2 separate regions of the Homo sapiens genome follow, and region 1 is linked to region 2. A link means that fine-mapping ties the variant in region 2 to the expression of a gene that starts in the linked region. Tissue or cell type: whole blood. Region 2 holds a variant in brackets; the other region holds the start of a gene. All regions are shown on one strand. Distances are between the middles of the regions. Region 1 holds the start of MAML3 (mastermind like transcriptional coactivator 3). Region 2 overlaps MAML3 (mastermind like transcriptional coactivator 3).

The links.
Region 1: it holds the start of MAML3, and the variant in region 2 is fine-mapped to the expression of MAML3 in whole blood (INTERVAL, PIP 0.97).

Annotation. Positions count from the first base shown.
Region 1 is chr4:140,152,332-140,156,813 of GRCh38, forward strand. It overlaps MAML3 (mastermind like transcriptional coactivator 3), which reads right to left and starts at 1,853. Exons shown (of 5, transcript NM_018717.5): 1 at 529-1,853. The coding sequence starts at 996.
Region 2 is chr4:140,097,702-140,102,007 of GRCh38, forward strand. The region is part of intron 1 of MAML3 (mastermind like transcriptional coactivator 3); the gene reads right to left. Among named protein-coding and RNA genes, the nearest start is that of MAML3-AS1, 28 kb to the right of the region's middle. The variant C/T (reference allele first, on the strand shown) is at 2,537.

The sequences.
Region 1 (4,482 bases), 55 kb after region 2:
CGCTTCCCCCCTAGGGGTTGAGGGCCTGGTGCCCGCCCAGAACCTGCGACAGCATCAATATTTCCACGCACCCGGCGGATGTGCTGAGAGGGGTGGGCGTAGGGGGACGGGTCTGGGGAGGCGAGGCGGCGCGGCTAGAGGTGGGGTGGGGAGCGGCGAAGAGGAGGAGCAAGGTTTCAACTCAGGGGTTCACTCTTTCAAATCGGTATCTTAAGAAAGGGAAGGGGGGAAACTTTTCCAGCACCTCACTCCGACGCTCCTCTAGGCTCCCTCCGCCCCTCGCAGTCGTGACTGGCTTCTCCCCTCTCGCCCCCTCCTCCCCAAATCTGACAACCCTGACAGATTAACAGGTAGCGACGACGGCAGCTTTTTCCCTAAGAAAAGTTGACGTTAACCCTTAGGCTTCAGCCCACCTCACCCACCGTGCAAATCAGACCCTTGTACCCCCATGTAAGAAGCTCCACGCGCCCCCCACCACCACCACCACCCCCAACGCGCGCCGCAAGCCCGCTGCCCGTGCGCCCTCACCATGATCAGCGTGTGGTTCCTCTGCTCCGCCGAGGCAGCCTCCGCATCTTGCTGGGGTTTGCTCGGGTGCTGCTGTTTGCCGGTGCCGGCGCCCGATTTCTTGGCCCTCTGCTCCAGGGTCCGCTGGTAGAGGCTCACGGTGTCCCGGCGCTCCAGCTCCAGCTGCTCCACCTGAGCCTGCTGGTACCTGTTCTCGCAGTTGACGTGGTGCCGACGGCAGCCCTCGATGCGCTGGCGGAGCCGCTCCACCACGGTGCTGTGCTTGGGAACGGCCGCCGAACCGCCGCCGGGGCCCCCGGAGCCGCCGCATCCACCGGCTGCCGGGTGATTGCTACTCGGAGCAGCGGGAGTACTATTGGGAGTATTATTCACACCGATCCCGGCCCCGCCGAGGCTGCTGTTCAGGCTACTGTTGATGCAAATACTACTGCCATTCGCGGCAGCAGCGGGGGCTGCGAAATCCCCCATCCTGCTCCCCGGGCACACTATTTTGGAAGAACTTTTTTTATCCACCCCCCTATCAGCCTCCTCCTTGGGTCCAAGGATTAAAATAGTTTAAGTGGAACGCGGGGGAGACGCAAGCACATGGATGGAAACGGCGATCCCGACGGGGCGAAAAAAACGGGGGGGGAGATTTTGGGGTGGTTTTTGTTTCCTTTTTTTAAACTGTAAAAGCTCAAGGGGAAGAAAAGGGGGGAACGTTATCGGAATACCATCAGACACCTATCAACAAAAAGAATCACAACAAACTGAGCCAGCAGCAAATCGGGTTGCAACTCAAGGGGAGATCCGCTCCTTGCTTGCCTTCTTTTTATAATCCATTATTTTCTAATAAATTCCAGGAGATTTCCGGTGGTTGGCAAGCATTTTCTCCCTACATACCGAAAAACACACCCCATGTACACACACAAGCATATGCCTCCAGTGCGGACACGCGCGACACACACTCACTCCACACCGCATCGGAAAACGGCAAGCTTGCTTATTGCATTTTCCTTCCACAAAAAAGTTTTGGTGTTTATGCCGCCCCGTGTTCTCAAAGTACTTTGGCTGCTCAGTTGCATTTCACAGGAACCTAGATATCGAATCCTCGGGCTGGGGGAAGTAAACACATGGACAGTCCGAGGCGACTGCAAAAGTAGATCGGTGAAGTCCTTTGCAAAACGCCGCGCAGAGAGCAGCACCTAACGCTCGGCTGGGCTGCCGCTGCCGCCGCTGCTCCTGCCACCATCACAATGATCAACTGCTCGCCGCCGCCGCCGCCGCCGCCTCCTCCTCCTCCTCTCGCTCCTCCACCTCCTCCTCCTCCTCCATGCCAGCGGAGTGATATCAGGACGCGCGAGCTCAGTAAACACGGCAGCGGCGGCGGCTGGAGGCCGTGAGACAGGCCCGCGGACACGGCGCAAAACCCGGCCCGGACTCTCACCCGGCAGGAGCGGGCGCGGCACGCACCAGCACCCGGCTCCCGTCTCCGTCGCCTCGGCGCCCGGCGCCCCTCCTACGCCCCCAACCACACTACCGCCCCGCCGAGAAGCCCAGAGCCGTCGGCGACGGAGAGAAGAAAGATTCTGGGGGGATCTCAGAAATAAATCAACTTTTGACCTGTGTGTGTGCGTGAGAGCGTGTGTGAGTGTGTGTGTCTGTGTATGCGCGCGCGCGTGCGCGGGGACGCGCCTGGTAGGGTTTCCTTATTCCAAGGAAAGTATCAAGCGATCCCAAGTTGTTGTTATACATTTATGCATTATATTGCAGAACTGTGCATGACCAGGCAGAAACATTGAAGCTTTACAGCAGTTGTCTGTCATCCCTATCCATGTGGAAAGAAAAAGGCAAATGAGTGACTTGTTTTTAAAACCCAGGTAATAAGTCTGCGCTAGTAACAGCGCTACTTACGGACACTTGTTCCAAGTCTAGGCCAGACTGAACACACAAATACCAAATTCTAAATAAATAGAAATAGGCATCAAAAATGTGTAATATTTAACTCACTGTACATAATGATTGTTGTTACTAAGTCAATTATTGTTTTACTTACCCTTGGAAAAAAATAAAGCAAGCAGGGACTTGGAGGTGAGACTAACAGTACATTTAAACAGACTGTTTTGAACACTAGGTGCTAATGACAGCAGTAATTAAGGTCCTTCGTAAATCAAGTGGAAAGATTGCAGATTTCATAGACTAGAACTATAGAAAAAACACAGCATTTCACAGTTTGTCATGACCAAAACAAAAACAAGCAAAAATAACAGGCCTACTTTATTGCTGGATATATTTCTTTCCATTTCAATGAATTCACAATAAGTACAATTAAAATGGACTAGCAACTGCAGAAATCAATCTAAACTTTCCATTTTATTAAAGCACATTATCTTTCCCGATATTATCTAAAAACAAAAATAACAACTAAGGATCAAATATTCTTGAATATGGACTTAAACCATTGCATATACATATTTTTAAAAATTAAGATGGAGAAATTATTATTTCTCTAATAATCAGTAAACTATAAATCTTGATTGTGAGATGTTAATTATAAGTCATTTTGTATTATTTCAATAAATCTTAAGAATTAGTTTTTAGGGTAAAAATACACCCCAGTTTTCTAAAATAGCCAGGAATAAAAGAACTTTGGATCTTATGCATTAGTCATGAGATCTGATTTAAACCATCTTCATTTCTTGGCATTGCAGATTAGCACAGGATGCTATTTCTAACCTCATAATGTCAGCGATAAGAAGCTATATTTTTCTTCAATTAATCAGTTCTATATAGTGAACGATATTTTTAATATTCACTGGATATATGGCAAAATGGGCAGCAAAATATTTAATACGGTGTGAGGCTACTTCTAAGCAGTAAAACCAACTTAAGAGAGTGTATATTTCATTGAAGTTGCCACACTTTTTCTGAAGGCTATTTAGTTAATATACAAATTTCTGTATCAAACTGCCCTTCTTCAAGTCTCAGTCAGAAAATTTAACTGGACTACGTCTGTAGCAAAAGAGCCCGTTCAGATTCTGAAAATATGTAGAGAATTTTAAGAAATTAGAAAAAGAGGTAGCAAAGTGGCCTTTATCTTTTTCACATATTCACTAAATAATATCTCTATTAACTCAGGAAACACATGGCTTCGCCACAGAGGGGAAGCTATGACTCTGCATTCGCTTTGCTCTCTCTTCACCGTAGTTTAATTCTTTTTTTTTTTTTTTTTTTTGAGACAGAGTCTTGCTCTGTTGCCTAGGCTGGAGTGCAGTGGCGCCATCTTGGCTCACTGCAACCTCTGCCTCCCGGGTTCCAGTGATTCTCCTGGCTGAGCCTCCTGGGTAGCTGGGATTACAGGTGCACGCCACCACACCTGGCTAATTTTTGTATTTTTAGTAGAGACGGGGTTTCACCATGTTGGCCAGGCTGGTCTGAAACTACTGACCTCAGATGATCCACCTGCCTTGGCCTCCCAAAGTGCTGGGATTACAGGTGTGAGCCACTGCGCCTGGCCACACTGTAGTTTAATTGTTATCCCTCCTCCTTCACTTGCCTCCATCACCCACAAAAGACTGCAGTTTGATTTACAGAGGCAACAAATTTGAGGGTCTTAAGCACTGGGTCTTTAGTTTTTGAGACTTGGGTTCTCATTTTAGCTTTTTCCTGTGACTCAGAATTTAATTATTCATTGAGAGTTTCTCATTCTGGGGAAAAAATGACAACAATAGCAGCACCATGTATTCCCTTCAAGCTGTTTACCTCTCCTACCATGAAGGGAAACCAAAAAGACACAAGAATTTGCATCCTTCCCTTTGGGGAACCAGCAGGTGGGACAGCACACTTTGTGGTTTTACCACAGAGTTCCCCAATGACAAATGAAGCTCTTCTTGCACAACCACAGTATACTTTGCTGCCTGATTTTAGTGCATGAATGGGCTATACCCAAAAGAAAAACTGTTACATGTGTACACA
Region 2 (4,306 bases):
TAAAGTTTGGCCACTTATCTGACCATACCTGCAAAACTGGAAATTTCACAACCTCATCTCCAAGCTCACGTTCCTTCGTGGTGACAAGAGGGAAGTGAAGACTTTTAACCAGATGGGAAAAGTTACCACAATATTTCCAATACTGTGTTTCCACCAAATATTTCCAAACTGGCATAGGATAGAGGGCATGAACCAGCTATCACTGACTGGCTTGGCATTTTTGTCAACCTGCCTGTATTAAGAAACCTGTCTTGAAAAGAGCATTTTTATTAAAAGCTAAAAGCCTTCAAGTCCTCCACGTTTTTCTCCACTACGAAGTATTAGAATAGAGAGAATAAGCTATCGTTCATTTATTCAACATTTACTGAACACCTATTAATTATGTGCTCGGTCCAGGGAGTTCTTAAGAGTTCTCACATTTTCAAAAACTGGGAGAACTTCTATTTTGCATATGTGAAGTGTGTTTATTTATACCCAAACAATATTGTGATAAAGAACATTTGTAGTTCACTCAAAATATTCGCAGTATGCTCAAAAGGGCAAAGGTTTTTTGAATCCGAGCTCTATTACATACAATGCGCACGTCCTTGGGCAAATTATTTCTCTAGACCTTGTTTTCTTCATCTGTGTAATGGGGAACTAGGTTTCATCATTTTTTATGAAGATTAAGTGAAATATCAGCTGGCAAGCACTTAACAGAAGCTGGCACATGGCATTCAAGCAATCATGCATTTAGTAAATATTTATTGAGCACCTCGTATACGCCAGGCTGTGTTGTAAACACAGAGCCTCACCAACCAAAGGGAGAAGCCAGATTCCCCCTTTCTTATCCTTCCCGTATCATCACCAGGACTTCTCAGGGGCTCTGAAAGCCTGTGAAAATGAAACCAACTGGACGCAGTACCAATGCCAAACACCATTATTTTCAATATCTCATGGTGCTCTGCACCAAGGATTGAATTTTCAAGTGAGATTCACGCTGCCCATGAGTCCTGGGCACAAAGGCCATGTGGCTACTGGTCTGCATCGGGCTATTCACCTGGGGACCCAAAAGCAGAGCCCTGGAGCCACCCACACCCTGGCCTCCAGGGTTTAGACAGAAATAGAACTTAAGAGACATAGGTTGCTGTCTCTCTTGCCTTTTTGCTCTTAAAATGAGAAAGGTGACTTATTTTGAGGTGGGGGAGGGATACCCTCTATTCAGAGGAAGTTCCCACATGAACTGCTACATTGTTTCTCTGACTCATTTTTACTTTTCCTCCCCATTGCTTCCCAGCCCTCCCTTGATGTCTCGGTCTGTTCCAGATGTGGTACAATAGGCTCTTTGTTTACAAGATTGTAATGTGCAATAAAATCAGTTATGAGGCCAAGAATAATTTATGCACAAAAAAATAAGGACAGTAAAATTGACATGAATTGTATGTTTTACAGTACTTTTTGATCTGTTACATTCCTGTTGATAGAATTGATAGACACTAGCTAAAAACTTTTAAGTGTTCATAAAACTCTGTTCACATTGGAAGTATATCACACACACACACACACACACACACACACACGTGCACACAAACAACTCAGGAGCAAAACTTTTTTAAAAGCCTTAAGCAAAATACTGAGTTCTTAATTTTGTTACTGACACAAGCATCCACCCAGTCTCACAAGTAAGAAATCTGTAGCTATTTTCTTTTTTTTCTTTCTTTCTGTCTTTGTTTTTAGAGACAGGGTCTCACTCTGCCACCCAGACTGGAATACAGTGGCACCATCATAGCTCACTGCAGTCTCGAACTCCTGGGTTCCAGCAATCCTCCCGCCTGGAGTTATTTTCAGTGGGTAAGGCAAGGTTTCATGGGAAATCATAGACAGTTTGTAGCCAAACATGCTTGGCTCTGAATCTCAATCCTATTCACTTCTAGCTAGGAGGTTTTTAAACATCTCAAAGCCTCAGTTACTGCATATGAAAAATGGATTTTGGTGAAAATTAAATTAGATAAAGGATGAGCAGAATGTCTGAACACATGTTTGGCAATCAGAAAGTTATTTCTCCAACCTCCCTTCCCCAACACACCTCTCAAAACCTTTCTTTTCCATTCTATCACTCAGTTTCATCTCTCCTGGACTACTGCTCTCCGACAGGGTTTTCAGCCTTTTGTCTACTACTCCTTCAAACCATCCCAAACCTGCTATTACAAACAACATTCAAAAATCAGAAATTTGATCATGGCACTCCCTGTCACAAATCCTCCTATGGTGATAACATTCAGAACAAATCTGCATTCAGAGAAAGTCCACGTGTCCCCAACCCATCTGTTCAGCCTCAACTCCCCCATGACCACCCCACCCCTGCCCCTTGAACGACCGCAGCCCCCACGTTCCAGGCACCCAGTCATTGTGAGTGGAGCATGCCATCTGCTCTGGTGCATGGACTCTCACTGCCACTCCTCCGGGATGCCAGCCCCACTCCACCCCCTCCCATCTGTAGAGATCACTGTCTCCTTCAAGGCTTAGCCCCAGTGCCACTTCCTCTCTGCAACGTTCC[C/T]GGATTTCCTCTGCTGACTCAAGCCTCCACTCATGTGTCTATGCCTTTCTCAAGTTTATTATTTAAACTTTTGTTCTCCAGTTATCCATATCTATGAGGGTCCACCCCCCTAGACTCAGTTCCTCCATGACAGAGACCAAATTGTATTCATTTTTACAAACAGTCCTCAAGTTTTATCCTTCCTTGCAAGAAGAAAATAAAACCAAACAGATAATTTATTGAACTGAAAGGACAGAATGAGGATAGAAGTAACTAAACAATGCCCCTGTGAATAGAGGCATTTCTTAGTGGAAAAACATATATATGTGTGTGTATGTTTGTATAATGTAAAAACGGAGCAAGCCATTCCCAAAGTGCTTCAAATTCTGGCAAAACTAAGATGCACTTAAAATGAAGTCTTAGGTGTATTAAAAAAAAAAAAGATTTCAAAAACCTCAGCAAACCACAGAGGTATACACCATATGTGGTAGATTAAAAATGACCACAAATTCTTTGATCCTTCTTCCATGGACAGATGTGTCTATTCCACAACCTGCGTCCACCACTTTTAAAGGTGAGTTGCCTATAACTGCTTGGACCAATCAAGTATGGGAGTGATTTTGAATATGGGAGTGATATTATGCCATTTCCAAACCTAGTGCTTAATATGACTAACAGTTTTGGCCTTGGTCTCTTGGAACCCTGGGCTTCCCTGTAAGAAATATGAGTACCCTAATGGAGAAACCACATGGAATGGCTCCAAGGCTCCATGGAGAGGCAGACAGGCCCAGTGGGGAGCTCAGTCTTCCAGGCATCCTTGCCAAGGTGCCAGGAAGGTGAGTGAAGCCATATTGGATCCTCCAGATCAGAGCAGCCATTGACTGACTAACAGCAAGGGACCAGAGTCGACGCTACATGGAATAGAAGAATCACTCAGCTGAGCCCTGCTTGAACAAAATCACAGATATAATCAAATAATGGTTGTTTAAGCCGTCAAGTTTTGGTGTGGTTTGCTAGTTAGCAATAGGTAACAGGAACACAATTTTAATCCCTTTTGGCCCAGCGTCCTACCCTACCTAATAGAACACTTTTCCTCTAAAGGGAGGAAAGTGGCCTTGTGTAGAATAGAGCTCCCAAGTCACTGATGGTCTAGTTGAAGGGATGAGAAACTCACCAGGCTCTTGGACAGTTGCAGTTGTAATGCACTTGTGTAATGTATAATACACATTTCTTTCAGATAAGTTCAGTTTACCCACAGCTGTTCTATCTGTCAACAGATATTGGGGCAAATGTGGTTAATAACTTCAGGAACAATTTGGTAGAATTCTACTCAGGAAGCCAGGAGACCCTCCATTTCAGTCTTTTACCATCCACATCTCTTGTGTATATGAGGAAGAAATGTTTGTGTCTTCATTTGCCTAGCTATCACATGAAGAGAAGCATACGTGATACCTCTTAGATCAGTGTAAATTAGAAATGAAATCAGGTTATGGACTGAAAACACCTTCAGTTCCTTGGCCAAAAAAAGGCTAGGTAAACTCAAGGTACTATCATCATTTTGCAAATATGTTATTCCACTATATAAAATAGCCTAAATTAGTAAATGCAATTCCACGTGCTGGGTCAGCTGAGCATTTTTTTTTTTTTTTTACATTTGCCAGATTCCCCTTGTTTTGTCTTTCTAGCCAATAGAACAACACTAAAATATATGGAGAATTTAACTAACTTTTGAAAAAGAGATAACACAAGTTAGAACCAGAAGAAGTCATCTGTGCCATAAGTTTGTGTCTT